3 separate regions of the Homo sapiens genome follow, and all the other regions are reported to be linked to region 3. The links are microRNA targets in miRTarBase. Many come from high-throughput screens and were not tested one by one. Region 3 holds a microRNA gene; each other region holds the end of a gene's coding sequence.

The links. The annotated mature microRNA hsa-miR-5700 reads UAAUGCAUUAAAUUAUUGAAGG and lies in region 3 at 4,703-4,724, opposite strand. An mRNA with a match to its seed (bases 2 to 7 or 8) in the 3' UTR can be bound and repressed. Matches are read on the target gene's strand: a 7mer-m8 pairs with bases 2 to 8, a 7mer-A1 pairs with bases 2 to 7 and ends in A, and an 8mer does both.
Region 1: the mRNA of TRUB1 is a reported target of hsa-miR-5700. Seed matches in the 3' UTR shown: 8mer at 5,788-5,795 and 8mer at 4,494-4,501.
Region 2: the mRNA of ZFR is a reported target of hsa-miR-5700. Seed matches in the 3' UTR shown: 7mer-A1 at 1,421-1,427.

The regions. Positions count from the first base shown.
Region 1 is chr10:114,970,574-114,981,337 of GRCh38, reverse strand. It overlaps TRUB1 (TruB pseudouridine synthase family member 1), which reads right to left. Exons shown (of 8, transcript NM_139169.5): 6 at 9,064-9,203; 7 at 6,953-7,009; 8 at 3,662-6,215. The coding sequence ends at 5,959. Among named protein-coding and RNA genes, the nearest start is that of LINC02626, 19 kb to the left of the region's middle.
Region 2 is chr5:32,346,369-32,356,512 of GRCh38, reverse strand. ZFR (zinc finger RNA binding protein) reads left to right here. Exons shown (of 20, transcript NM_016107.5): 20 at 574-2,163. The coding sequence ends at 753. Among named protein-coding and RNA genes, the nearest start is that of MTMR12, 39 kb to the right of the region's middle.
Region 3 is chr12:94,555,754-94,566,517 of GRCh38, reverse strand. It overlaps MIR5700 (microRNA 5700), which reads right to left and starts at 4,729; the gene lies at 4,659-4,729. RefSeq lists enhancers at 3,082-3,151, 5,192-5,301, 5,101-5,727.

The DNA of each region.
Region 1 (10,764 bases), not on the chromosome of region 3:
TTACCTCATAATCCAAGTTTACAACACAAAGAACACAAGGTAGGACACAATCTACCTTGGCTGAGAATTGGGAGATTCAACAAGCAATATTAGAGCATACTCCATAAGAATTTCAGATAACTGAGTTAACAGAGACTGTTAGACTAGACAATAAGACTAAATAGACTAGTAGACTACATAGAAAATTAGACTAAAAAATACACATAACTAAAAACCCTAAGAAATCAGAGAAAAGTTCATTAAAACCATATTGTGATAAAGTAAACATGTGCCTAAATGGTTAAGAAGAAAACGTAAAATACTTTGTGGTGATAAGGATGTGGAACCATCAGAATTCCCATATGCTGCTGGTACAGCAACTTAGAAAAACTCCTTGCACTATCTACTAAAGCTTAACGTGTATACTTTACAACCTAGATTCCAGTCTTAGAAATATCCATCAGAGGCCAGTCGCAGTAGCTCACGCCTGTTATCCCAGCATTTCGGGAGGCTGAGGCAGGCAAATCACTTGAGGTCAGGAGTTTGAGACCAGCCTGGCCAATATGGTGAAACCCTGTCTCTACTAAAAATACAAAAAAATTAGCTGGGTATAGTGGTGTGTGCCTCTATTTCCAGCTACTCAGGAGACTGAGGCATGATAATTGCTTGAACCTGGGAGGCAGAGGTTGCAGTGAGCCGAGATGGCACCACTGCACTCCAGCCTGGGTGACAAAGCGAGACTCCGTCTCAAAAAAAAAAAAAAAAAAAAAAAAAAAAAAATTCCAACAGAAATGTGTGCATGTTTACCAGGAGACAAGTATTACATTGCTCATAGAGGCATTATTCAAAATAGTCAAAATTGAAAGCTAACCAAGTGTCCATCATTCAGTAAAATAGATCAACAGTGGTAATAACTGAATAATAGTAAACAATGACAATGAACAGTAAGTGGGGCCTTTGGGAGGTAATTAAATTTAGACAAGGTCATGAGATTGGAGCCACTATGATGGGGTTAACGTCCCTATAAGAGGAGGAAGAAAGACAAAAGCCTCCTCTCTCAGCCACGTGAGGACACAATGAGAAGGTAGCCCTCTCCAAGCCAGTGAGACAGCCCTCACAACAACCCAACCACACTGACACCCTGATCTCAGACTTCCAGCCTCCAGTACTGTGAGAAACAAGTATGTTAAAGTCACCCAGTCTATGACATTTTGTCATAGCAGCCCAAGCTAAGACAGCCACAATATGGAAGAACCTCATGATTGTAGCTTTGTGCAAAAGAAGCCAGACATAAAAGAAAACATATCACATACTTCTATTTATATGAAGCACAAAAACAGACAAAATTACTAATCTATATTGTTACATGAAATACTAATCTATAATCTTGATGGAGCAGTAGGGGCTTCTGGAGGGCTTAGTGATGTTCTGTTTCTTGACTTGGTTGCTGATTATAGACATGTTTGGTTTGTGAAAATTCACTAAGCTATACAGTTATGTGTGACTTTCTGTATATTAAATACCAAAGTAAAAAAAATATTTTTTTTACTAAAACCTTAATGAAAGACTAAGACAACACATGAAAAAAGAAGAGGCAGATTTTGGAGGAAAAAAACCTGGTGTAGAAATAAAAACAAAAGGCCGGGGCACAGTGACTCATGTCTGTAATCCTAACACTTTGGGAGGCCGAGGAGAGAGGATCACCTGAGGTCAGGAGTTTAAGACCAGCCTGGCCAACATGGTGAAACCTCGTCTCTACTAAAAATAAAAAATAAAAAAATTAGCTGGCCATGGTGATGCACGTCTGTAATCCCAGCTACTCAGGAGGCTGAGGCAGGAGAATCACTTGAACCTGGGAGGCGGAGGTTGCAGTGAGCCAAGATTGCGCCACTGCACTCCAGCCTGGACAACAGAGTGAGACTCTGTGTCAAAATAAATAAATAAATAAAAATAAAACACAAGAGTGATTGGAATAAATATATGATTGTTAAACAGTAAATAAAAATAGAAAAAGGCATTCATTATCTGGAAAAAAGATTGGAGGAAATTCCCCAGTATGCAGCACAGTGGGATAAAGAGATGGAAAATATGAAAGAGTAATTAGACACAGAATAAAACAAAAAGACTTAAATAGGATTACTAGCTGGAAGAGATGAAATATCCAAAGAAATGAAGGATGGGAATTCCCCAGAACTGATAAATATAAAAGTTCAAGTTCATGAGGAATGAGTTCCTAAGCAAAATAATCACAAATTATCTACACTTGGAAGCCTAATATTTTAGCATTGGAGAGATTCTTCAAGATGGACTAGTCTGTCTCCTTTGTTGTAAGGATAAGGAAACTTGAGACCTAAAGAGATTAAGTGATTCACCTAGGATCAAAAAGTTGACTAACGGTAAAGACAGAAATAAAGTTAATATGCTGCATTTTAAGGGTTAAGGATAAGAAGAGCAAAATAATTCCCGAACTTCAACTTTCCGGCCGGTATCAGTATTTATAGCAGCAATCTGAAGATATTCCTATTCATAAAGAGAATTTAGCTCACACATTAACAAATGAAGGTACTACTGATTCAACACCTTAATAAATGTGCTTAATAAATAGTATTTAATGAAGAATTAGGACAATCTAGAGCTCTGCCCATACATACCTTAGAGAAAGAAATGGTTTCAAGACAATCCCTCTCTTTAAATTTAACTACAAGGCCATTATACTCATTTCAGTGCATAAACCTCATATCTATTATCGTTTCCTCTATTTAAATGTTTTGGCATTTTACAGTGCTTTTGAATCACATCTCTTTCTATTGTATACATCATGATATAAGGTAAATTACTTACTTTCTTTGAAACAGAACAATTCACCATCTAATTGAACCTCAAAATGTTCATTGTAAATCTGATACAAATTTCAAACTGGTCAGGGGACATAAAATGTACTGAAGATCTGATACAAAGCACTCTTATTTAATACAGTAACTCATTTCTGATGATGAGTCAATGGCTTGTTTTAATTCAAGTATTTAAGAAAAAAATATCTAGTCAGTACAGGTAGAGGAAACTGTGTTTAGCCTTTATTCACATTTCAAAACTTTGAATTTGCAAAGAGCAAATTTCTATTACATAAAGGTCCTGGATTTTAAGACTATAAATAAAATAATTCTATGACTTTTAACAACTTTTAAGACATTATTTTTCAAATATAAAAAACTTAAAGTGTCAAAATGAAGTGATTTGGTATGTTCCAGGTTGAAACATTTTCAGGATTTTTTAAATCTTTTATCGTTTTCTTACAAGTAAAACAACTTTATCATGTCATGAAGGTTTAGACCTAGAAAAATATAAGACACAGAAATTTCTTGAATATTTTGATAAAAATGAAAAAAAAACTGAGTTGGTATTTAAATACCAGACTATCAGGGAAAACTAATTTGTTTTATGAATGAGTCTTGAACTTTTCAGAGTATCTCAGTTTCAACTGCTTATGAGAGTTAGTAAGATTTTAAAGTCTCAATAAATTTAAAATTTTTCATACTTATTAATCTGACAATGATAAAAGGGGAAGAGTTATTAGAATTAGCAAATTTAGTTAGCAAAAATGAAAATTAAAACTAAAAGGACAACAGACCGTGAAAAATCCTTCTATCAGGTATTTACAACACAAATAACTCATGCAAATATGTATAGAAACCATTAAGACATTTATTTATATAAATGAACAAAGTATACAGATAAATCACATAAAAGCAAATCAGAAAAACTTTGATTTCTCTCCTATGTTTACTAAATTAGCAACAACATATAAAACCCCTACTCAAATGGTAACACTGTAAAATGTTACAACTCTTTGGGAATGCAATAAGGCAAACATAAGTCATAAAGTTCTTCATATTATTTCACTAAATAATCCCCCTCCCAGGAATTTATCATAATAAAATTTAAAACTACTTAAGTATTCAGCAATAGAGAAATACTCTAAATAAATTAAGAGTATAAAGTAATATAATTAAAATAATCATTATCACAACTACATACATATAGATAATATCAAATGAAAAAGTCAATTTAAAAGTATAGGTGCCTTAAGACTATGTGAACAACAAAAAGGAAAATAGTAATATAAAAATTTAAATTCTAAAGTTACTACATTAAGATGGTAGAGGTAACAGTAATTTTCCCATTTGGCAAAACTTCAGTTTTAAACATAAAAGAAAAAGAGTGGCTATCGTTTTTTAAAAATGGTCAACAATCTCTACTCCTCTATTAGTAAACTCTGTGTCAATTTTTAAGGTGAAAAATACAGCAGAAATACCTCTGATGTGTTCTAAAACCTAAGTATTTCTCTATTTGGACTTTAATTTGCAATGGAAGAGGACATATTGTAACCTGTACCAGTCCAACAGGCAGATGTAGCCACTGCCACCTTTGGTTGACACACACTGTGGGGCACTAGATATGAACAGGTAAAACTGTAAATTTTCATTTTATGACTTTGTGTGTTTGATATTTTATGTTAATGCATCATGGTATTAACACTCTTTTTCCTTACAGTTTTGTCTCATACTAAGAATTGTTTTAGTGTTTTCATTTAAAATATGTTGCCAATATGTTGAAAATGCTGTACTGATGCATATATAACATTTTACATTGAGTTTAAATTGGGTTAAGCACAAATAAAACCACTTTAGTTTACATATTTTAAATTTCAGAGTTAGAGACTACAAAGCAGGAAAACACCTTTAAAAAGAAAGGCAAAGCATAAACATCTAAAAACTTGTATTTTATGAAATTTCTCATGAGTCTTCCTTTTGAAACTGTATTTGAGTAAAGGAAGAGGGATCTGAATGTTTCTACAGACTGGCTGCATAATATATTGCTTTCCCATAACAAAAATATGAAGCACTCATTATATATGAAGTTTACTATTACAATGTGGCTACATTTAAAAAATTATGGTAAAGAGGGATAGGGAACTTTCAGAAAGCTATCTGAATGAAAATGTTTGAGAAGAACTGTTTTTAAATATTTAGAGCAGAAGAGATTAGCTGGAAATGCAGGGCAGCCATCTCAACATCTGTAAGTATCTCTTGAAAGAGCAAACTAAAGAGACAATGTCACAGGGAACACCCTACAGAGAAATATAAATAAATGCTAAAGAATAAAGTTTTTAGTTGAAGACACATTCTTTAAATTTTAAAAATTATGTTACTTAATAACTTGGTACAAAGTGCTTGACCATGTTGACATTACCATGAAAATATCTCATAGCTGCCAAAATACAAAACTATAGGAGCTGTCTTCTGCTCTAATGGTAGGAAGGTGACTTTAATTAAGTATTAGTCTTCTATTTACAACCTGTTAGTGGTAGCAGTAATAATTTGGTTCATTTACAAATATTATCAAAGCTTATTCATTTCCAAGATCTAAACAAACACAGGTATTACTAGATGATGGCCATTTTATCAAAGAAATGTTTTTAATAATAAACTCTCCAAAACAGAAGAAAGAGATCAATAATGGCCACTTTAAACAATTTAAAGAATTTCAATAAAATGAAGCCACCAGGAAGCCTAAATAAAGTAAAAATAACACTAAATTATGGTCATTTTTGTGAAACTAAAGAAACATGGAGCTCATACTTTTTTCTTTGATTAGGAAATTTGTTCAACTTTTTCACAAGACTGAAGACAGATCAAATTCAGAAAGTTAATTTTTCTGAATCCAATCATATTCATATTTTCACAATACAAAAAATCCTAAAACATTTCACAACACAACAAACAACTGAGCCAACTGCAAGGCCATTTATAATGCATAGAAAATAAATTATGTGCTATTGAAACTGTAAATGATAGACATTTTTCTTCATGCAAAAAAAAAAAAGACATATTGTTTGTCTTTTGAATGCAGCTTGTCATTCTGCATCTGCACACAGGATTCAAATGTCAACTAGAAAATGATGATATTCCCAGGCCAATCTCAACACGTCTTAATTACATCATCTTCTCTCTTTGGCTCATTTAGAGTTATATATTCACAGCTCAAAACCTGTTCATTAGACTCAGGTTTTGATTTTTTAAGTGCCAACTCTGCTGGGAAAAGAGATGAGCAATGCTCAAGAGACTGTGCAATGTCATCAATTGTCCATTTGTCTTCAGGAAGGGCATGTTCTTCTAGCGTAAATGGTCCCTGTTTGGTTCGGGTCAGCTCTAGCACATTGGCACAGGAAGATAGTTCTATGGCAACAAAAGGTAGAAAAAAAATCCAGAAGATAAACGATTCAGTATTTCATAGTCTGTAATTGTTCAAATGACCGTACTCAATTGAAATCTCTCAAAACCACCCAAAAGTATAATAATCCAATATAAGAACCAAGAGGCCTCAGATAAAGAAATGATTAAGTAGCAAAATAATACTTAATAATCCACCTTATAAGCTGCTTTAAAATCAACAAAGAACTTGCACACATTTTTGTTATTTAACTCATGCAGCCAACCCCATGGAGTAAAGATTAGCCGCACTTTACAGATGAGATCATATGACCTGTCCAGTGCGACAACTGCCAGTAAATGGCACAGCCAGAACCGAAACCTTCTGGCTGTTTATAAGACTACGGCTTCCAGTTTAAAAAAATTTGAAAATAACTTTTAGAAGGTTAAATCTTTTTTTTTTTTTGATCCCTAGTTTGAGTTAAAATCTTTTGTACTTGAAAAGATGTTGGCCCTACGTTCATTATTCCTGTCTTCGTTTTCTGTTCTCTCTTTCTCTTCTTTCCCATTACAAACATTTCACTGCAGCTGCTGAGGCTGATAATTGCAAGCCAGAAACCTACAATGCTTTTAAAGCTGAAGGCAGCAAGAGTTCAGTTCCTAAGGCCAGTACTCAGAAATAAGAAAAACGGAAAATTCCCTCTTCCAATTGAAAAGGAGTATTATTCTCTAAATGATAATTCATAATTCATTTTTATGCTTACCTTTTCCAATGTCACTGACCAAGCTTCTGATATAAAAACCTCCTCCACATTCAACATCTGGAATGTTAACAGTGACATAGTAAATTGCTAACCTCCTATGAAATCCACTTTACATAGAAATGATGTCCCTAAACAAATGTAAAAATGCACTATGCAAACAATTGAGTGATAAAATATTTATGCACTAAAACATAAATTATTCATCCAGTAGCATATGTGTTTGTGAGACTGAAAAGTCAGAGTGTGGAGAAAGCAAACAGCACAAACTCATGAACACATTTTAAATTAACTGGCAAGGCATACCACTTTAATACTTCAGCCTTGTTCATTTAATAGGTTTTAAATAGTTAGAAATCTCAGCTTTGCTATCATGAGCTTGAGATTTTAAAAAATATTTTCAGATTTATATGCCTTGTTCATTTAATAGGTTGTAAATGGTTAGAAATGGCAGCTTTGCCATCATGAGCGGTAGATTTTTAAAATATTTTCTGACTTGTACATTCAAAAAAAATACAACCAACCAACCAACCAACCAAAAACCCCTTTTCACAGTGACAAGAATTATGTTTAGGGTACCGTACTACACATGAAGAACTCAGTTTATTTAAATGTTCTCTTGGAAATACTCCTGAAGAAATCATAAAACAACTTAAAATTGCACAATGTCCCAGAACTGAATGTAAATCTAAATATCTTCTTAACACAATCTAACACAAGTTTATTGGTTAAGAACAGAGCTCTCCATTATTTTTATCCATCAGCAAGACTTCCTGAAAAGAGCTGCCACATTTCCACACAAAAGGACTATATTCTAGCTGCTTCGAGTCTTACTGGTACAAATAAAGCCATTTGGGGGAATTAATCAAAACTCACCACCTGGGGATTTTAATCACCCCCTGCTTTCTTTAGTCAGCTCATGGTTGGGGGCCACTGCTGAAATTGAAAGTGGGCACTGGGATGAAATGCAGGCGCGCTAGCACTCTTGCGTGATATTTGACTTGAGTGAAAAGACAGCTCTTTTGGCCCGTTACACTCTCCCTAGTCAATAAAATATTTCTGACTTAAATGCAATCTGAAAAATCTGAGTTTTTTCTTGCTTTCATAGAGAATATCTACTGTGTCAAACCAGCTGCTTCATTTCCATGGAATGGAGCACAACCTTCCTAAGTGTGTTTTTTTCATTATCTGTCAAATATTTTAGAAGCAGGAACATGAAGAAACAAAGTGACTTTTTTTTTCTAATGGTACAAAACCATATCCTGCAGAAACACAACACAGATAAAACAATAATGCCAATAAAAAAGCAATAGAGTTTAGATTAAAAGATTTGGGGACATTATTTCTAAACGGAATCCTATTCAGTGCACTGTGAAACTAAGGGTAGGCTCAATTTAAAGGAGTCTGAGGATTAAGAACCACGGCTTTGGATTCTTCACAGATCTTACATGTTTACAACTTTCTGCAGCCAGATCATAAAATTTCCAAACAACAGAAATGAACTTTTTAGTCTTTACATTTCAAATATATATTAGAAATTAAAATTCATAACTTGAATTAAAAATGTGACCATGTATTCAGGAATACATTTCTGCCTTACCCATGTTTTTCCATATTTGCAGGATCTTTAATAGTAAGTGATAGGTGGTGAAGAAGGGAGTGAGGGGTTTCTTGTCCAAAAACTAAAAATGCTTTGTTTTCATTGGAAAATTAATGTCAGTTCTAAAACGGAATGTATTAGGTACTAGCCAAAATGGGAGGAAAAGCATCCAAAAGATAATAAAAACCTAAAATTTAAAAAGTATATACACTCCTTACCTACTCTTCTCTATAGAGATCTAAAGTATGTTACTTTCAACTTTCTAGTAAGATAACATAGTACAATATATGAAAAAGTCAGCCCAGTTAGAAACGCATTTCTGAACCTCCATATAGCTACAGGTATCTCATTAAATGTGTTACCAAAAAAGGTATAAAGAAATCCTAACTTTCCTTAAATTCAAATTTTAAAAAATCTCCAACATCCTACGGATCTATTAAAATGACACAAAAGTAGCCAAATACAAATTAAAAATACACGTAAATACAAATGATTTCAAATTTCTCCATCTTACCTAATGTGAAAAATGGTGGCTGGAATTTTTGAAGGGAGATACTGTATACAGTCACTGGCCTGGCAGGTTTTGCTTCTACGACTTCACCTCTCTTCATCAAAGTCGAAAGTCTTTGTCCATCTTTCTTTAATGCAGAATAGCTTGTGAGATGAGAGAAGGAGAAATGGAAGGAAAGGAGAGCAAGAATTGAGAGGGATTTGGAAGGATTGGGAGATGATAATTTCAGATTTAGCATGGAAAGGAAGGATGACTGGCAGTGCTTCACAATGAAAATCCTTCTAAAAAATGAATGAATTTTTAATTCTAATCTACTCCATAATGCTGTCATGGATAGAGTTTCTAAATATTTCTAAGGCTGATATAACCTCATTCTGGCACACAATATGCAGTGTTACCAATTTTATTCTTTAATCATCTTTCTAGAGACAATGTATTCATGTCTTGTCCTTACTAGTCCTCATTCTGTGTTAAAAGGCACAAGGAATTTAGTAGACTCTGGTCATAATACTCTCAGCTATATTTCCTTGAAACAATCTCTACTATAATATTCATTTTTATATAAGTTACCAAAACATTTCTAAGAAGCTAATAAGCAAATAACCTACTTAGCGTATCTTAGCTTTTCGTGATAAAATTTTACTAGAAAACAAAATCCTTGCAATAATCACAGAAAATATTAAAACAATTCTTATACATAAATATAAATAAATTTAACAATGATCCAAAATAACGTTTATGCAGATCTTGCTAAAATTTTTAAATTTTTACATTTGAGGCAAAATCATTAAAAAGCGTCTCCTCAGAGATATTTCAATGTTCCTGAAAAAAACTCAAGATTTTAAATACAAAATAAATACTAAATTCTAAAAAAAAAGTCAGAAACTTACCCTGACATATCCTATAACCAATTCAGCCATTTTTTTCAAAAGAGGCAATTTGCTTGAAATGGTAATGTGCACGAAAATATGGCTACATGGTATTATGATCTGAATGCCAAACCTCCAAATTTATATGCTGAAATCCTAACCCCCAAGGTGTTGATATTAGGAGGTAGGGTCTTCTGGGAGGTAATTAGGTCGTAGGGCGCAGCCCTCATGAAAGAAATTAGTACGCTTATAAAGGAGGCTCCAGAGAGCTGCCTTGCCCCTTCTACTAGGAGGATACGGTAAGAAGGTGCCATCTGTGAAAAAGCAGGCCTTCACCCGACGCTGAGCCCACTGCACTGTGATCCTGACTTCCCAGCCTCCAGAATGGTGAGAAATAAATTTCTGTTGTTTATAAGCTACCCAGTTTATGTTATTTTGTTACTGCAGCCCAAACTAAGACAAGCAGTAAAGCAATATACTTGTATTTTTAATAAGTTGTAACTCTCATCGGTTTCGCTGGCTGCAGAGAATAGTGAAGCAAAAGATTGTGCCCAATAGGAATGGTCCCAGCACCTGACATGCAGTGCACATTAGGACTCTGACTCACAGCTCTGACTTCCCTCCCAGACGGGACTGGTCCCTTCACAACAGTTCTAGGAAAAGAGACATCTCTGGGCTCCTTAACTGCCCTTATGTCTGTTGATAGAATCAGAAAAGCCAATAAACACTGTAATAGCACAGATGCCAGGCTGGGGCCACACTCAGAAACAAAGAAGACCACATTCCACTGCCTCTTAGAGTGTCAAAAGCTCCACATCCTGTCTCACCTTCACTT
Region 2 (10,144 bases), not on the chromosome of region 3:
TGAACCCGGGAGGCGGAGCTTGCAGTGAGCCAAGCTCGCACCACTGCACTCCAGCCTGGGCAACAGAGCGAGACTCTGTCTCAAAAAACAAAACAAAACAAAAATACTGAAACCAGCCTAGTGTTTACCAGTAGAAAATTAGGTAAATAAGTTTGGTACATCCACATGAGTATAATTACAGTTCTTAAGTTACATACTGTCTACCAAATGCCTAGGAAAGCCATCAGCAACCATTCTGTTAAAGCAGGTAGCTCCCATTTTTCTTTGTTTTCAACATCCTGCTTGTTTCTTTGATGTCACTTCTCATAATTTTTGTAATTTTGTGTGTGTGTTAAAGTTTTTTGGTTTTTTTTTTACTTAATGTTTAAGATAACAAAATGGCATGCACACAGAAAAGCTAGGAAATAAAAACATGAGAACATACAGATTATTTCAGTTGTGAAAGTAATTCCTTTAAATGTTTCTTTCATTACACATGCTTTTTTAGGTTGCATTTGGAGGGAGGTAAATGTAGTAAGTATTACTACTTGGGGTTTTTCAATTAACTCAAAATTCTGACTCTCTTTGTTGCAGTTTGCATTGAGACTCCTTGCATTCCGCCAGATACACAAAGTTCTAGGCATGGATCCATTACCGCAAATGAGCCAACGTTTTAACATCCACAACAACAGGAAACGAAGAAGAGATAGTGATGGAGTTGATGGATTTGAAGCTGAGGGGAAAAAAGACAAAAAAGATTATGATAACTTTTAAAAAGTGTCTGTAAATCTTCAGTGTTAAAAAAACAGATGCCCATTTGTTGGCTGTTTTTCATTCATAATAATGTCTACATTGAAAAATTTATCAAGAATTTAAAGGATTTCATGGAAGAACCAAGTTTTTCTATGATATTAAAAAATGTACAGTGTTAGGTATTATTTGAATGGAAAGACACCCAAAAAAAAAAATGTGCTCCGACTAGGGGGAAAACAGTAGTTCCGATTTTTTCCCATTATTTTTATTTTATTTTCTGGTTGCCCTAGCTTCCCCCCCTATTTTTGTGTCTTTTATTAACTAGTGCATTGTCTTATTAAATCTTCACTGTATTTAATGCAGGATGTGTGCTTCAGTTGCTCTGTGTATTTTGATATTTTAATTTAGAGGTTTTGTTTGCTTTTTGACACTAGTTGTAAGTTACTTTGTTATAGATGGTATCCTTTACCCCTTCTTAATATTTTACAGCAGTACGTTTTTTTGTAACGTGAGACTGCAGAGTTTGTTTTTCTATATGTGAAGGATTACAACACAAAAAGTTATCCTGCCATTCGAGTGCTCAGAACTGAATGTTTCTGCAGATCTTGTGGCATTTGTCTCTAGTGTGATATATAAAGGTGTAATTAAGACAGAGTTCTGTTAATCTAATCAAGTTTGCTGTTAGTTGTGCATTAGCAGTATAAAAGCTAATATATACTATATGGTCTTGCAACAGTTTTAAAGCCTCTGCATAATTGATAATAAAAATGCATGACATTCTTGTTTTTAATAGACTTTTAAAATCATAATTTTAGGTTTAACACGTAGATCTTTGTACAGTTGACTTTTTGACATAGCAAGGCCAAAAATAACTTTCTGAATATTTTTTTCTTGTGTATAAGTGGAAAGGGCATTTTTCACATATAAGTGGGCTAACCAATATTTTCAAAAGAACTTCATCATTGTACAACTAACAACAGTAACTAGCCCTTAATTATGGTGACAGTTCCTTATTGGTGTGTGTGAGATTACTCTAGCAACTATTACAGTATAACACAGATGATCTTCTCCACACACCCCATCACCCAGATAATTTACAGTTCTGTTAACAGTGAGGTTGATAAAGTATTACTGATAAAAAATTATCTAAGGAAAAAAACAGAAAATTATTTGGTGTGGCCATCTTACCTGCTTATGTCTCCTACACAAAGCTAAATATTCTAGCAGTGATGTAATGAAAAATTACATCTTACTGTTGATATATGTATGCTCTGGTACACAGATGTCATTTTGTTGTCACAGCACTACAGTGAAATACACAAAAAATGAAATTCATATAATGACTTAAATGTATTATATGTTAGAATTGACAACATAAACTACTTTTGCTTTGAAATGATGTATGCTTCAGTAAAATCATATTCAAATTTATTGAGTACTGCATCTTGTTATTCCTGACAAATGTTTGTTGTCTAAGCACATAATTTTCAGAAAATTTTGTAATTCAATACTATATTGGCTTAATTTCTTTCTAGGGTCAGAATCTACCCCCAAAGTCTTAGAGGGTCAGAATCTTCCCCCAAAGTCTTAGAGGGCCAGGAAACTGTAGGAGACCACAGGGGAAATAGAACAGGAGACTCAGACTTTTCTCCCAGATTCATCACACACAGATTATCTAATCTAAAAATCTGAAAATTGTCAAAATCTGAAACTTTTTGAGGGCCTACATGACATTCAAAGGAAATGCTCATTGGACCATTTCAGATTTTCAGATTAGGGATACTCAACTGATAGAAATATTCCACAATCCAAAACACTTCTGGTCCCAAGCATTTCAGCTAAGATATGCTCAACCTGTACTGTCTGTTTAACTTGGACAAGGCTTTTTTTCCCTTTGTAAATTTCTCTGGGCCTCATTTTACTCTCCTTTAGAATTTCGTTCCTCAACAATTCTCTTGGAAGAATGCTGGCCTGGCACAATGGCTCACGCCTGTAATCCTAACACTTTTGGAGCCCGAGGCAGGCAGATCTGCTTGAGCTTAGGAGTTTGAGACCAGCCTGGGCAACATGACGAAACCCCGTCTTTACTAAAAATACAAAAATATTGGCTGAGCATGGTAGAACGTGCCTGTAGTCTCAGCTACTCGGGAGGCTGAGGCAGGAGGATTGCTTGAGCCTGGGAGGTCAAGGCTGCAGTGAGATCACACCACTGCACTCCAGCCTGAGTGACAGAGTGAGAGCCTGTCTTTAAAAAAAAAAGGAGGGGAACTGACCTTTACTACACGTTGATTCTGGGCGCCATGCTAGGTCTTTTTATGTACTTTCCCATTTAAAACTATCGTAAGTGAATTGTAGGTAGTATACATCATATTTTTTCGATGAGGAAACGAGCCCAGAATGGCTAAATGAAGATTATACACCTTATGTCACTGTTTAAGTGACAGTTTCAAAGTTCATGGTCAGCACTTTGCCAGGCTGCTTCCTTCACCCTCCAATTATGTACTAAAGATGTTTTCAGCCCATCTGGGACCAAAATTTTGCATTTGGTTTGAGTGTCTTCATCCAAAAATGCAATTGGTACCATTTAAGTTTTTTACTAAAACAATTATTTCTGTATTTTCTACATAGCTTGTTTTCATAGCTGTGGCTAGACCCACATTAGTTATATGAAAGAGTAACTTGGATTGAATATTCCTTAGTATCCTCTGACAGTTCTTTTGTTTGGTTGTTTTGCTTTTTGAGACAGGGTCACGCTCTGTCCCCCAGGCTGGGGTGCAGTAGCACGATCATAGTCACAGCAGCCTCGAACCCCTGAGCTTAAGCAATTCTCCCGCTTAAGCCTCTCAAGTAGCTAGGTCTAGAGGTGTGCGTCACTACACCCAGCTCTTTTTTTGTAGAGATGGAGGCCTTGCTGTATTGCCCAGGCTGGTCTCAAACTTGTGGTCTCAAGCAGTCCTTACCCACCTCGGCCTCCTAAAGCACTGGGTTTACAGGCATGAGCCACCACACCTGGCCTGATTTTTTTGTTGTTGTTTGAGACAGTCTCGCTGTTGTCACCCAGGCTGGAGTTCAGTGGCGCTATCTTGGCTCACTGCAACCTCTGCCTTTCAGGTTCAAGTAATTCTCGTGCCTCGGCCTCCCGAGTAGCTGGTATTACAGACGTGCACCACCACGCCCAGCTAATTTTTGTATTTTTAATAGTGACAGGGTTTTGCCATGTTGGCCAGGCTGGCCTTGTGAACTCCTGGCCTCAAGTGATCCACCTGCCTTGTTCTTCCAAAGTGCTGGGATTACAGGCTGGCCTGATTTTTTTAAGTCAACAATATTGTAAATAATTTTTCTGCTTACTGAAAAAAAGCAGAAGTCTTGTTTTTGCATGGTCATTACATTATTATGTTATGAATTTATAAGCAGTTCCTTTAGAGGAGCCACCATTTTTTGAATTTGACAGAGCCGTTTTATTAAAAAAAAAATTTCCCAGTAAAGGACAAATACTGGCCAGGCACAGTGGCTCACGCCTGTAATCCCAGCACTCTAGGAGGCCGAGGCGGGCAGATCACCTGAGGTCAGAAGTTCAAGTCCAGCCTGGCCATGGTGAAACCCCGTCTCTACTAAAGATACAAAAAATTAGCCGGGCGTGGTGGTGCACACCTGTAATCCCAGCTACTCAGGAGGCTGAGGCAGGAGAATGGCTTAAAACCAAGAGGCGGAGGTTGCAGTGAGCTGAGATCATGCCATTGCACTCCAGCCTGGGCAACAAGAGCAAAACTCCGTCTCAAAAAAAACAACAAAAAAAAGGACGAATATAGGTCATACAAAGATGATAATGTTCATAGCAGTGGTCTGAAACTTGACTGTTCATGAGTCATCTGAGGAACATTCTAAAAGTTAAGATTTCCGGCCAGGCATGGTGGCTCATGTCTGTAATCCTAACAGTTTGGGAGGCCAAGGCAGGCAGATTCCTTGAGCCCAGGAGTTCAAGACTAGCCTGGGCAACGTGGCAAAACCCTGTTCTAAAAAGTTAAGAGTTCTAAATCCTAACTGCAAAGATTCTTATTGAGATAGGCCAGAAAAGCCTGAGAATCTGCAATTTAAGATGACTTTATATTAGGTAATTTACTTGAATGGGTGGTTCATACACATGATATAAAAAAAGTTGACAGGTATAAAGTGATACATAGCATAAAACAAGTATTCTCCTTTACCTTGCCTTCCAATTATGTTACTTCCCTTCCAAGAGATAGTGTCAGCTCTTTGTGTGTCCTTCCACAGATGATCACTGTATGTGTTAGCATGAATGGATGCATCGTGTTTGTTCTTTACAAAAATGATAGCATACCGTGTATGATCTACACCTTGCTGCTTTTTATTTAAGGTATCTTGGAGTCTTGGAGGTTATTATGTATCAGTACACATAGAGAAACTGCATTTTTAACAATCACTATAGGATCATTCCAAATTAGATTTTTTGTTTTTCTTAAATTTTATCTGGGAGACTACGCCATTGCACTCCAGCCTGGGTGACGAGCAAAAATCCATCTCAAAAAAAAAAAAAAAAGCTGGGCACGGTGGCTGATGCCTATAATCAACACTTTGGGAAACTGAGGCAGGTGGGTCTCCTGAGGTCAGGAGTTTGAGACCAGTCTGGCCAATATGATGAAACCCCCTCTCTACTAAAAATACAAAAATTAGCCAGGCATGGTGGTGGGAGCCTGTAATCCCAGCTACTCGGGAGGCTGAGGCAGGAGAACGGTGTGAACCCAGGAAGTGGAGCTTGCAGTAAGCCAAGATCGTGCCACTGCACTCCAGCCTGGGTGACAGCAAGACTCTGTCTCAAAAAAAAAAAAAAAAAAAAAGCCAGGGAGCGGTGGCTCACGCTTGTAATCCCAACAGTTTGGGAGGCTGAGGCGGGCAGGTCACGAGGTCAGGAGTTCGAGACCAGCCTGACCAACATGGTGAAACCCCATCTCTACTAAAGATAGAAAAATTAGCCAGGCATGGTGGCGCGCACCAGTAATGCCAGCTACTCGGAAAGCTGAGGCAGGAGAATCACTTGAACCCAGGAGGTGGAGGTTGCAGTGAGCCAAGATCGCACCACTGCACTCCAGCCTGGGCAACAGGGCGAGACTCCGTCTAAAACAAACAAACAAAAAATGTACATGGTTCTGATACAAATTGTGGATCATGCTTTAATAAATGCTTTATAGCAGTGACCATAATGTACTATACAATGCAAAACTAAACTATATTTTAAATTTAGTATTAAGTGTATTTTGTCATCAGCCAAATCGTGTATATATAGTTATCAGTATGTTAATCGGAATATTAAGCAAATCGTAATATCCCCATTCCCTAAGGAATTTTTTTTTGATACTTCAAGTTTTACGGTACATGTGCACAACATGCAGGTTTGTTACATATATATACATGTGCCATGTTGGTGTGCTGCACCCATTAACTCGTCATTTAACATTAGGTATATCTCCTAATGCTATCCCTCCCCCCTCCCCCCACCCCACAACAGGCCCCGGTGAATTTTATTGATTACCTGTAGTCTCGGTAATTTTAGTCTTCCTTTATCTTGCTTAGTGTAATAATATTGGGTGTAAAATAAAATCTGGAAATATGAAACAGTTATATTACTAACTTAAAGCCTGAATTTTTTTTTTTTTTTTTTTTTTTTGAGACAGAGTTTTGCTCTGTCCCCCAAGCTGGAGTGCAGTGGCACAATCATGGCTCCCTGCAACCTCTACCTCCCAGGTTCAAGCCATTCTGCTTCAGCCTCCCGAGTAGCTGGAATTACAGGCAAGTGCCACCACACCTGGCTAATTTTTGTATTTTTAGTAGAGACAGAGTTTCACCATGTTGTCTAAGCTGCTCTCCATTTCCTGACCTCAAGTGATCTGCCGGCCTTGGCCTCCCGAAGTGCTGGGATTACAGGTGTGAACCACCGCGCCTGGCCTGAAAAATATTTTTTAACATTAATTAAGCTGATTCTATGTTAAATACAAAGCTAATATATTCACCTCATTCTAATATAATCCCAAGTGAGACATGCTATTTAATATTAAAGAAATTGGGTCTTTAGTTTGGAAAGGACTATTCAGTTTAGCAACAAACCTAATGTGAAAGCCTTTTTCTAAAAAAAGGAAGCAACCTATGGAATAAAAGTATGAAATTGATTAAATTTCATAAAATTTAATCAAATACGGAATAAAAGTATGAAAAGATTAAATTGATTGTAGGAACTGATTACTCTAAAAATACATGAAGATTAAGAGTTCAGGCTGAGTACAGTGGCTCACGCCTGTAATGCCAACACTTTGGGAGGCCCCAGTGGGCAGATCACCTGAGGTCAGGAGTTCGAGAACAGCCTGGCCAACATGGTGAAACCCTGTCTCTACTGAAAATACAAAACTTAGCCAGTGTGGTGGTGCATGCCTGTAGGCCCAGCTACTTGGGATGCTGAGGGAAGAGAATCTCTTGAACCTAGGAGGTGGAGGTTGCAGTGAGCCAAGATCATGCCACTGCACTCCAGCCTGGGCAACAGAGCAAGACTCCATCTCAAAAAAAGAAAAAGAAAAATGAGAAAACTTGATGACACAGGGCTTGTGTTTCTACATGGTAACAATTAGCTAAAGCTGAGAGTAGGGGCCACTCCCTTTAGAAGATAAATTTTAGACATAACCTGTTCTGAACAGTTTACCACAGCCTCCATCATTTCCTATTTGTCTACCAGGCTAGCCCTGTTGGCATTTGATTTTATTATATCTCAGACCCCAGACATTTTACCTATGTATTCTTCCAACTTTAACATGGAACCGTATCTGTTAAGTTTGGGAACAATCTCTAGTTATTTTCCATTCTAAATTTTTAAATTCTGTAATCAGGTATTTCCTATACATTAGGATATTTAATGCTCCTCTACTTAATGTAACAGACAGCCACAGAGAAACACTTGCACTTTCTTCACTGATTTTTTTCAAAAGAAATATCAGGAAGAAGGCCTGAAATTTAAGCAAGCTACAGCCTTAAGAAAATCCATCCTTTCATTGGAGAGACCAAATCCATTACCTTCTGAAAATCTCAGTCACGTTGGAGTAGCCTGCCTGTCATCCTGTCTGCTCTCTGGACTAAGAGAAAGAGGTAGAAGAAAGGGCATTGGGAGTTGAAGAAGAAGAAAACATAGATGAGCTAAAAGGAAAATAAGATATTTCTAGATGACAAAATTTCTAATTGTATTGTTACTGGAAAGGGGTCCCAATTTCTTGGATCTCACATGAGAAAGAATTCAGGGCAAGTCCATAGAGTAAGGTGAAAACAAGTTTATTAGGAAAGTAAAGGGATAAAGAATGGCTACTCCATAGGCAGAGCAGCAGCCTGGGCTGCTCAACTGCTTATACTTATTGTTACTTCTTGATTATATGCTAAACAAAGGGTGGATTATTTATGAGTTTTCTGGGAAAGGGGTGGGCAATTCCTGGAACTGAGGGTTTCTCCCATTTTTAGACCATGTAGGGCAACTTCCTGACATTGCCATGGCATTTGTAAACTGTCATGGTGCTGGTAGGAGTGTCTTTAAGCACGTTAATGCATTATAATTAATGTATAATGAGCAGTGAGGATGACCAAAGGTCACTTTCATCACCATCTTTGTTTTGGTAGGATTTGGCCAGCTTCTTTACTGCATGCTGTTTTATCAGCAAAGTCTTTGTTACCTGTATCTTGTGCCAACCTCCTATCTCTTCCTGTGACTACAAATACCTAACCTCCTGAAAATGCAGGCCCATAGGCCCATAGCCTTATTTTACCCAGCTTCTATTCAAGATGGAGTTGCTCTGGTTTGAATGCCTCTGACATATTTTCCCCCTGCCTTTTATAAGAAAACCCTTAATCCTGAGTTCTAGAGGGACAAAGATCCATCTTCTGTAACTTCTTCAGGGTGAGTAAGGGCAATGATATTCCTGGTTAACAAATTAGGGTCTCTTGTATTTGTGGTAGAGAGGCACTCAGTAAGAAAGCATCAGTATGGTGAGGGCCATTCATAACTTTGAGTTCCAACAAAAGGTAATATCTAGAAGATTAATAAGTGTTCAATTTAAGAAAACATTCAGTAAGCTTATCCTGCATTCCTACACAAAGAGTACAACAGCAATATATTCCACAACAGTAAAGCAAAATAAGTAAAATTATCCCAAGTAAACTAAATAGAAGACTTTCCATGAACTGGGCAACTGTTGGAACCAAGCTGATACAGGGTTGCCAGCTGATTCCAATATGTGCCTAGAATTAGAATACTTATCCAGACTTTTTTCACAGTACCCATCCATCTCTCTTGTTTCTTCTAAGCTGTAGCCAAAGATCACTGGTTGGTTCACAGGAATAAGCAGTCGGTCTAAATTGCAGAATAAAAAAAAACTTAAAAAATACTGATGAGACTAGAATCTAATCACAGGTGTACCATTGTTCTTGAAACCTGATTTTTTTCTCTTTCCAGTCTTCCATTTTTACTAAAGACAAATCATACTAAGACCGATTTGCTTGCAAAAATAAGCTTTTTTGAAAAGATAAATCAGGTAGAGAGAAAACAAATATACTCCAAATTTTGTTCATGGGAATATACTTTACTCAATTGTTAAAAGCTGTAAATAGCTCAAAAGAAAAGTTGTCTTGACTCCGAAAAACAAAACAAAGGATTAGCAATATTTTAAGCAAAAGGTCAAAAAAGATTACTTCAGTCTTCCATTAGTTCAGTCCTTGAAGTTAACTCCTGTTGATATTCATGAACATTTCAACTCTCCATGAGAGTCCTGAAAGTTTTTTCCTCTATTCTAGTGTAACAGTCTTCAAAGTTGTCAGGAACCTGCATTCAACAGCACTTGTCAAAGTCCTACAGCTAATTATACACCACCTTTTGAAGAGGATTAAAACAAAACAACAATAGTCTGTGGATGACAAAAACTCTTAGACCAGCCATTATTTAAGCCACAATGGATTAGGAATTTTGGTTACCTCTATGGTACACAATAATTTTACATAACAATTATAATTATTAATAACATACACTATGTCATATCAGAATTATAGGAGTTTCCCATAATTTTGGAACACATACCAATAATGTATTTATACAAATATAGTGCAAAGAAAGCCACCATTTCATATTTGGCAATGCTTCCTATATGATTTTTATACCAAATAAACCAGTTTCAGCTTTGCATTAATGTACTATTAATGTTAAACCCAATTCTTAATAAAACCTTGGCTGGGTGCAGGGGCTCATGCCTGTAATCCCAGCACTTTGGGAGGCCGAGGCAGGCGGATCAACTGAGGTCAGGAGTTCGAGACTAGCTTGGCCAACATGGCAAAACCCCGTCTTTACTAAAAATAGAAAAAAATTAGCTGGGCGTGG
Region 3 (10,764 bases):
CGGGGGGGGCACAGGGCAGCAGCACAGGAGGGAGCAGACGCCTGACTCCAGCAGTCGGTTTAGTGCACTGTCTCCAGTTTGTCTGGGGCTTTGGTGTCTACAATGCACTTGATTTCACAGTGTGTGAACTCCTATGAACCAGTCCAGTAGTACAGATACCAACGCTATTCCTACAATATTCCCCCTTTATCCTCAGGGGATGCCTGAAACCTCAGATAGAACTGAGCCCTGTATACACCATTTTTCTTATACATACATATGATAAAGTTTATAAATGAGGCACAGTAAGAGATTAATGACTAATAATAAAATAGAGTGATTATGACCATGTACTGTAGTAAAGTAAAATAAAAATTACTTGAGCAGAAGCAGTTGATCTTATAACCAAGACAGCTGCTAAGTGACTCACAGTCGGGAAGCGTCTACAGGGGTGTCCAATTCTTTGGCTTCCCGGGGCCATATTGGAAGAAGAATTGTCTTGGGCCACGCATAAAATACACTAACACGACAGCTGATAAGCTAAAACAAAATCACAAAAAACCTCATAATGTGTTAAGAAAGTTTACAAATTTGCATTGGGCTGCATTCAGAGCCGTCCTGGGCCGCATGCATCCCATGGGCTGTGGGTTGGACAAGCTTGGTCTACAGTATAAATACACTGGACAAAGGGAGGATTCAGGTCCCAGTTGCGACAGTACAGGATACTGCCAGATCAGAATGGCGCACAGTTGAAAACTTACCAATTGTTTATTTCTGGAATTTTTCCTTTCTTTTCTTTTCTTTTTTTTTTGAGACAACTCTGTCACCCAGGCTGGAGTGCAGTGGTGCGATTTCAGCTCACTACAAACTCCGCGTCCCGGGTTCAAGCGGTTCCCCTGCCTCAGCCTCCCAAGTAGCTGGGATTACTGGCATGCACCTCTCCGTCTGGCTAGTTTTTGTATTTTTAGTAGAGACGGGGTTTCACCATGTTGTCCAGGCTGCTCTTGAACTCCTGACCTCAGGTGATCCACCCGACTTGGCCTCCCAAAGTGCTGGGATTACAGGCATGAGCCACTGCGCCCGGCCTATTTCTGGAATTTTTCATTTGCTATATTTGGATCTTGGTGGGCTGCGGGTAACTGAAACCACAGAAGCAGCGCCGCGGCTGAGAGGGGACTGCCTCTATCAGCGGGTGGGATGGAAGCCCAGACACACGAGCCTTTCGTGAGGTCTTGGCTGGTGAAGAATTCACGACTCTGTTTTTCTCATCTTGCCTTTTTAGCCCTCTTCACTTCATGTCCTGACCAGTTTTCTACTTTGGTCACTCACCCTGTACAGACAGACTAACTAGAACTCTCAGATGATAGAAAAATTCTTAACTACAGTAGCCCATTCTGTGCCCTGGAAAATGGAGCATAGCTGAATATTTGGAAATCTTATGGGGAACAACTGTTATTTTGCACACTTTTGTCATTTGATGTCTGAGGATGAATACAGACAATGGAAGTGATTGAATGAAATATGTGTCCAGCCCAGCATATTCCTAAATGTTGCATTAGGGAAAACACCTTACCAATTCTGTGTTTCCCTGAAAAAAAAAAAAAAAAAAAAAAAGAAATGGGGAAAAGTTATGTTAGTTGGTTTCAAGCTTCATTAAGCATAGTGCTATAGAATAAAGCAGTATTTACCAGTTTTGAGTAATGTATGGATTTTTTCTTTTTTGAGACAGGGTCTCATTTTGTTACCCAGGTTGGAGTGCAGTGGTGCCATTATAGCTCATTGCAGCCTTCATCTCCCAGGCTCAAGTGATCCTCCCGCCTCAGCCTCCCAAATAGCTGGGACTACAGGCGAGTGCTACCATACCCAGCTAATTATTTTATTTTTTGTATAGACAGGATCTCACTTTGTTGTGCAGGCTGGTCTTGAACTCCTGGGCTCAAGTGATTCTCCCACCTTGGCCTCCCAAAGTTTTGGGATTACAGGCATGAGCAGCCATGCCCCACCGGATTTCTAATGTAAGAAATTATTTTGGGCCGGGTGCTGTGGCTCATGCCTGTAATCCCAGCACTTTGGGAGGCCAAGGTGGGAGGATTGCTTGAGCCCAGGAGTTCAAGACCAGCCTAGGCAACATAGTGAGAACCCCCCTGCCATCTCAAAAAAAAAAAAAAAAAAAAAAGAATTAAAAAAAAAAGAAGTTATCTTGTACATTTGAGGAGGTCCATAGTCACCATTTGACAAAGTAACTTAAAGTCTTAATAACAATAATAGCCTTTTAAAATTTGCAATTAAATCTATGAATATCTGCAGCCCCACATACAGAGTTATTTTCTAAATAGGTATGATTATGAGATGTAGAAATTTGTGGGTCATGTAAGGAACATGGCAATACCAAACAGCACCTTTCTGGGCATTCATAGATTTGGGATGATACCTGGCATTCTTTGACATTTACTGTGTACAATGTACTGTGCCAGGTGCTTTACTTGCACTATCAAATATAATCATTCCAACACCCAACAAGACAGGCACTATTATTTCTGCTTCGTAGATGAAGAAACTGAGGTTCAGAGAGGGAAAATAGTGAGCAGCATCAGGCAGCAGGTACTGGGGGATCCCCAAGCTTGTGTGACTCTAGCCTTTACGGGTGACCGCTACCCTACACTATAATAGAAGGAATTGAACAACTGGCTTCTTGTCAGTCAGGGATCACTTTTAATCCTAGGACTATAGCAATCAATAATGTGGTTACAAATTGTGCATTTCCATCTTCATGCTGCTGGCCATACAAGGTGAGGGCAGAGATACCTGAAGCTAGCATCCTTGATTTTTGAAGAGCCATGAGCTGACAGATTTGTGGATAAAGAGAATGGAAAGCAATTAATTATAGAAACTTTTACACACTCCCTGGCTTCCTGAGATTCTTGAGGTGTGTAATTGGCTGTTGACGTGGCTGAGTGTTTCTCAGCTTTTTTGCTCAGCTCCAAGACAGTGAAGTCTCTGGTGGCTTCTGCTCTGAGGCTGCGTGACATCTGCTACCATCTGTGGTGGCTACCTCAGAAATCTCTCTCCTTGCTAAGCCAGCCAGAATCTCTCCCTTGCCAGGCCTTTAACTTGACTAAAGCAGTTAACAGGAACATGCGTCAGCCATGTTAACAGCTGTTTTGTTGGTGGTTACTCCGCTCTGGCTTAGGCATTGAGAATTGGATTTCTTTTTTTCTCTTTTCCTTTTTTTTTTTTTTCCCGTTGTGCTTTAAAATAAGCCACTGAGTAGTAGAAATAAAATAAAGTCATGTACTTTCTGGTCTGTACTAGCAGTAAGGGACCCCATTTGCCAAAGAAGCTCTTGGAGGCCTGGATCCTTCTCTGATTCTTGGACTGTCAATGTCACAAGCAACAGTGCTAGCCTAGCCTTCTACCAGGGGTTTCCTCCCAAAGTGGTTTTGAATTCTCTTCCTTCATCATATTTATTCTGTGTTTTGATGCCCAGGTCTTGTAGCTCCCGGGAACAGTGAACTGTAAGACCCCAAAACTTAGGCCACAGGTAGAAGTTTATACATCCCCACACACAGTGGCTTAAGCAAGCAGAGACCCAAAGACATGCTTGGATTCAGAAAGGTGGCTGTCCCCAAACATGGTCAGAATTGCAAGGTGACTTCCTGCTATGCCTTGTCAACAACAAACAATTGACTAAGAAAATCCATGGAGGCCGGGCACAGTGGCTCACGCCTGTAATCCCAACACTTTGGGAGGCCGAGGCGGGTGGATCACTTGAGGTCAGGAGTTCGAGACCAGCCTGGCCAACATGATGAAACTCCATCTCTAATAAATATACAACAACAACAAAAAATTACTGGGCATGGTGGCGCGCACCTGTATTCCCAGCTACTCCAGAGGCTGAGGCGGGGGAATCGCTTGAACCCGGGAGGAAGAGGTTGCAGTGAGCCAAGATCACGCCACTACACTCCAGCCTGGGCAACAGAGTGAGACTCTGTCTCAAAAAAAAAAAAAAAAAAAGAAAAGAAAAAGGAAAGTCCATGGAAACCATGAATGAGAGGGAATGGAGGTGACCCATTCAGTCAATAAGCAATCATTCTCAAAAGAGAAGGTAGAGGGTTGCAGGGGGCCGGTGGCTGGCTCTCTGGGTGAGCTGGAGAGTGGCAGCTGTGTCCCTAGAGCAGGCGGGGATCCTGCCTGGCCAGCTGCACTCGGTCTTCTGGGTTTCTGGTTCACAGAGCTTGTTCATGGCCTCCCTGAGGCTATCGACTCTGTGCAGGCTCCAAGCCAAGCTGGCGACTGCTTGGCAGCCTCAGTGAACTCTTTCTACTGGGGACAGACTGAGCTGTCCGACAGGGCAGAACGTTTCAGCTCCTTGGCAGCTGTATATGCTTGAATGTAAATCACTACATTCGCTTTCTCTTCTCGGGGATATTCTTGTCAGAGTGAATCCGTTAGCATGAATCAGTTTCACAGGAGTGAGCACCTGATAAACTGATAGAGGCATTTCTGAACTCCATGACATGTGGGAAGCCCAGCTCGAAACTCGGGGGCTTTCCCCTTACTGGCAATTTGATTAAATGAGGATGAGGGGATGGGAGGGGTGGTGTTTCACCTCTGAGAATCTCCCCTTCCTAAACTGTTAACTGCCTAGGATTATAGGGGTTAGATGAGATCGTAGATGCTCAATAAATGCATTAAATTATTGAAGGCCTGGGGTGCCCAAGGGCCTTCAATAATTTAATGCATTAATTAATTAGTTTATTTATGTGAGACAGAGTCTCGCTCTGTTGCCCAGGCTGGAGTGCAGTGGCACAATCTCTGCTCATGCAACCTCCGCCTCCCAGGTTCAAGCTATTCTCCTGCCTCAGCCTCCTGAGTAGCTGGGACCACAGGCAGGCACCACCATGCCCGGCTAATTTTTTGTATTTTTAATAAAGACGAGGTTGCACCACGTTGGCCAGGCTGGTCTCAAACTCCTGGCCTCAAGTGATCTGCCCACCTCGGCCTCCCAAAGTGCTGGGATTACAGAATTTAATCCATTTATTGAGCACCTGCTACATGCCGTGCACTGTTCTGGGCACAGAGTACAAAACAATGTTACTATCCTCTTGGAGGTTACATTCTGGTGGGGGAGAAGTCAGGTGAAAATAAGATAATATTTGGAAGGGGGAAGGCCCAGGCTCTTGGCATGTTAAACTTACCTTGATATCCTTACAGAGAAAATGAATTTTCTGAGTGTTTCTTTGAATTTTTCAGCTCAATTTCACAGATAGCTATACAGCACAGCTTAGTAGACTCTTCCAAAGTAGAAATATTTCTGGGTCAGAGAGACTCGGCACAGCAGCAGGAGCGCTGGGAAGACCTGGGGTGGTTCTGTTTGGAAAGGGGATGAGATGCTCCTGTACTCCTGCTCCAGTGTTTTTGGCTTGAAATGAGTAACATGCAAATGAGCACCTGGGGCTGAGTCAGCAGTGAGTAACCCCCTCTGCGGGACGCCCAGCCCCGAGGCATACACGGGGCCGCCTCTACTGGCTACTGCACCCCGCAGATGCTTCCGCAGCAGACTCTGTGCCTCACCCCCGGCCCTTGCCCATGTCACCTGCTCAGTCAGAATTCCAGCTCAGGCCAGCGGGGCTCTGCTGATGAAAACAGCATTACCTGGAAGCCTGGGACTTCAGTGTTTCTTCCCGCAGCAAGTGCTGAGGAAGCCGCTGCCTTCCCTGGCACCCCCTTGCCGAATAGCTTCCCTTCTGCAGAGGGCTAGGGTCCCCACTTCATCAGGCCTCAGCTCTCCCCTCGGCTCACCCCTCCTTCATACCACTCCAGGCCTCTGTCCAAGACAGACTCCCACCTGGGCCTCCTGCCTCTTCTGAGAGCCGGCACCTCCTTCATCAGCACCTGTTTTCCAGTGGGTTCATTTCAGCATACACAGATGTCCAGCTGCTGCTGTCCTAAACCCACTTTTATGATCCTGCATTTCCTCAGCTCACTATTCCTTCTCTTCCCTGTCACTATCACGTTTCTTAAAAGAATAGTCTCTACTCCTCTCTCCCAGGATTTCTTAATCCACTAAAAACTAGTGTCAGCCCCCAGCACTCCCCTAAAACTTCTCTCAATGGGGTCACCGAGGACCCATTTGCACTTCTGGTGCATGCTTCACAGCCTGTGTTTTTACTAAACTTCTAGTCATTTCCCTTTGCGGTGCTCCCTCCCATCTGAAACATTTTGCTTCCCTTGGATATCTTCTTTCTTTTCTCCCTTTCTTTCTCTCTCTCTTTTTCTTTCTCTCTCTCTTCTTTCTTTCTTTCTTTCTTTCTTTCTTTCTTTCTTTCTTTCTTTCTTTCTTTCTTTCTCTCTCTTTCTTTCTTTCTCTCTGTCTCTCTCTCTCTCTGTCTCTCTCTCTCCCTCCCTCTTTCTCTCTTTCTTTCTCTCTCTTTTTTTTTTTTTTTTTGATGGAGTCTAACTCTGTCACCCAGGCTGGAGTACAGTGGGGCTCACTGCAGCCTCTGCCTCCCTGGTTCAAACAATTCTCCTGCCTCAGCCTCCCAAGTGGCTGGGATTATAGGCGCGCCACCACGCCCCGCTAATTTCTGTATTTTTAGTAGAGATGGGGTTTTGCCATGTTGGCCAGGCTGGTCTTGAACTCCTGACCTCAAGTGATCTGTCCACCTCAGCCTCCCAAAGTGCTGGGATTACAGGCGTGAGTCACTGCGCCCAGCCTGTTGGGTATTTCCTTGATGCCGCTCTCTGGTTCTCTTGCCACCTCTTGACCACCCTCTAGTCTTCTTTGGCTGCATTATCTCCATCTCACCCCCTTTGCACAGACTCCCCGTGATTCAGCCATCATCTCTAAGACTAATTCCACTGCCTCTATGTAGTGAGTACCTGCCTCTTTTCTGAGCCACAGACCATATTTCTATTTCCCCTTCATCTCTACATAGACATCCTTAGAGCACCTCAAAATATAAAACCAACCTCATTTTTTTGCCCTTACTTCAAATCTGCTCTATCTACACTACCTCATTCCATAAAGGCACCAACACCATCCATTTATTCACCCACCCAAGCTAGAAATCTTAAAGCCATTCCCCCTCTTTCTAACCAGTGCCATCTAATCGTGTCAAACTCTACCTTCTAAAGACACCCAAAACTTGTCCACCTTACTCTTTCCTACCTTGGTTCAGGGCACCATTATTTCCCCCCAGGAGAGTTGTAACAGTCTCCTATGTGGTCCCGGGTCTTCAGTTTTGCCCATACCCAATGCATCCACCATGTAAACTACCTGTGTGATCTAAAATGCAAATCAGATCATCTTATTCCACTTCTTAAAATTTTCAGTGGCTTCTCTTGCCCAGAGGGTCGTGTCTGAATTTCTGAGTGAAGCCCACTAGGTTCCCAGTGTACTGAAGTCCATGCAATGCCCCAGCCTCATCTCCCACCCCCCACCCCCATTGCATGCTCTACGCCTCAAGCCCTGAGCCCACCTTGCTATTTCATGCCCTTAGGTGACACACAAACACCTCCTCTGCCTGCAATCACATTTCTTCTCCTTCAAGACCCTTTCAGATGTCAGCTCTGCAAAGCCCTCATGTTCTTCTCCTCCTGACTCTGTATTCTGTAAAGAAATGCTGTCTAAATACCTTTTTCCTAGTTATTGAGAAGTGTTTCTTTTATGTCTGCTCCTGAAGTAAACAGTGAGTTCCTTGTGACCAGAGCATGCCCTTGCTCTTTCACTCATCTCGTCCTCCCACAGGACCTTGCCAAGTGTCAGGCACATATGTAGGTGGTGTTTAATCAATGCAATGAGCAAAGCAGCCCAGGTACTGTGAGAATGAAATATCTGGCTGGGCACAGTGGCTCACACCTGTAATCCTAGCACTTTGGGAGGCCAAGGCGAGTGGATCACTTGAGGTCAGGAGTTTGAGATCAACCTGGCCAACATGGTGAAACCCCATCTCTATTTAAAAAAAAAATTAGCCAGGTGTGGTGGCAGGCACCTATAATCCAAGCTACTCTTGAGGCTGAGGCAGGAGAATCGCTTGAACCTGGGAGACAGAGGTTGCAGTGAGCTGGGATGGTGCCACTGCACTCCAGCCTGGACAACACTGTGAGACTCCATCTCAAAAAGAAAAAAAAAAAAAAAAGATATCTACTGGGGCTATTTTCCTTTGCCCCTAGATTGTGAGCACTTGGTGGACTGGGAGTGTGTCTTTTTCTTATCTGCCGTACCTAGACAGCTGGTGTTCAATAAATAGTGTTGATTATGGTTGGGTTTACTACAACCTTCCAAAAACCCCCCCGATGCAAAGGGATAAAGATATCTAACTAGAATGCTGCCACTTCTGAACAGCTTTCTTTGACTTCAGTTTCCCTGATACTGACCTTTACCTCACCATGCCCTTCCCATTCTCTCCTCACCCCACACTAGGAGGAACTCTGGGCTATAAAGCTAATCTCATAAAATTTGCTGGAGTCTGAAGTCCACCCTGGCTAAAAAAAGAGCACACCTCAGAGCCCAGCCCAGGCTGACTTTAGGTACTTTCCACTTTTATTGAAATTATGACCACATTTCTGGAGTCAAAACAGGGAAATATGACTTACAAAGAACTTCTAAATGATAAAGGGAACAAGTTCCTCTTCATGGAATATGTCATTTTCCAGGCAGAGGGCTAAGGGGCTTTACATATTATCTCACTTCATCTACACTGCAGCCCTAAGAAGAAGCTACTGTCATCTTCTTACTTGACACATGAAGGAACAAGAGGCAATGGTGCTGAAAGGGTGAGAAATGGTACAGAAATGGTAGAATTGGAAATCAAACCCTCCTCTGTCTGATGCCAAACCATCAAGTCACTTCCAGGGACATGAAACAATCTGTGGCATGCCTTTGGGATCCTGAATTAGCAGAATTTCTGGGATTTCAGTGATTTATGAGAACACTATACAATTAGCAGTGTTTCTGTACACTAACAGCAAATTATCTGAAACAGAAATTAAGAAAATTCCATTTACAATAGCTACCAAAAATTAAAATACTTGGGAATAAACTTAAGGAGGTGAAAGATCTGTACACTGAAAACTAGAAACCACTGATGAATGAGATTGAACAAGACACAAATAAGTGGAAAGATATCCCATGTTCATGGATTGGAATAATTATTATTGTTAAAATGTCCATACTACTCAAAGCAATCTACAGATTCAATGAAATACCAATCAAAATATCTATGACATTCTTCACATAAATAAAAAAACACTTATGAAATATATATGGGATCCCAAAAGACCACAAATAGTCAAAGCAATCTTGAACAGAAAGAAGAAAGCTGGAGGTATCACATTACCTGATTTCAAAATATATATAAAACTGTGGTAAACAAAACAGCATGATCCTTCCGTAACAACAGACAGATAGACCAATGGAACAGAATAGAGAGCCCAGGGACAGAATATTAGAAATTTAGAATTTCTGATTTTGAGTTTTCTAGGATGTTTGAAAGCCATCTTCTCAGAATAGGATGGTCAGAAGGTATAGAGAGGGACCCAGCCTTCAGTTATAGTTATGCAGCCTCCCAAGGCCTGGCTCGCTCTCTTTGGAACCTCTTTGGAACTTCAGGGGCTTGAAGATTCCCATTGGGCATAAGGAAGTTGAGATCTGCTCCCAGGTTTTAGTACTTTATATTTATACATTATTAATGCATAAATAAAAATATAATATGTAATAACGTTTACTATATATTTAGAGATGTTCAGTTCTATATGTAAATCAATTTATTTGTTTAAATTTTTAAAAATTTTGAACTGATCATAAACTTAGTGAAAAGTTGGATGTTCTGTACAAAGAATTATATTTTTCCTGAACCACCTGAGAGTAACCATCAGTTGCCAACCTGATATCCGGTCACATGCAGTTACTCTAACGTGTAATTCCTACAGATAAAGACGCTCTCCTTCAAAACCATAATACAGCTGTCAGAATCAGGAAGGTAAATAGATGTCTTACTGACATCCAGTCCTTAGACCCCACTCAAGTTTCACCAATTGTCCCAATAATTGCCTTTGCAGCAAAATGACCTAGTTCAGAATTACAGGTTACCTTTAGTTATCTCTTTTGTCTCCTGAATGAAAGAATTCCTCCCATCTTTCCTTGACTTTCATGATCATGGCACTTTTGAAGATTATAGGCCAGTCATTTTGTATAATGTCCCACAATCTGGTGTTTCTTTGTGATTAAACTCAAGTTATCCATCTTTGGCCAGAACATCACAGAAATGATACTGTTCTCATTGCATCCTGTCACATAGAGCTCAGTTTCCATTTGTCCCATTATTGATGATTTTGCTTTGATAATTAAGGTGTCTTCTAGGCCCCTTCACTGTAAAGATGTTTTGTCCCCATGAGTAATTAATGAGGATTTAGTGGAGAAGTATGTTGTACCTCCCATTTCTCACCAAACTTTCAATTTATTCATCTATTTGCTAATATTAGTATGGAATCACTGTTTCCTATTTTATTCAAAGGGTTGTAATCCATGATTATTATTCATTTTAATAACAAGTTGAACCCTGTACAGCTGTGGGAACTCATTTAAGCAATGTTTTGTGTCCTTTTGCCATGTCCTCATTATTCTTTGAGCAAGCACGTGCTCCAGGCTCATGTTGTACTTTCCTTGCCCTAGACCTAGAACTGACCGTTCTTGTAAGGAGCCTGGGTTGCATTTGGTGGAAAACTGCATTTTAAAGCCAAGATCTGGATTCTAGGTTTGCTCTGCTATTAGGGCATCACCAC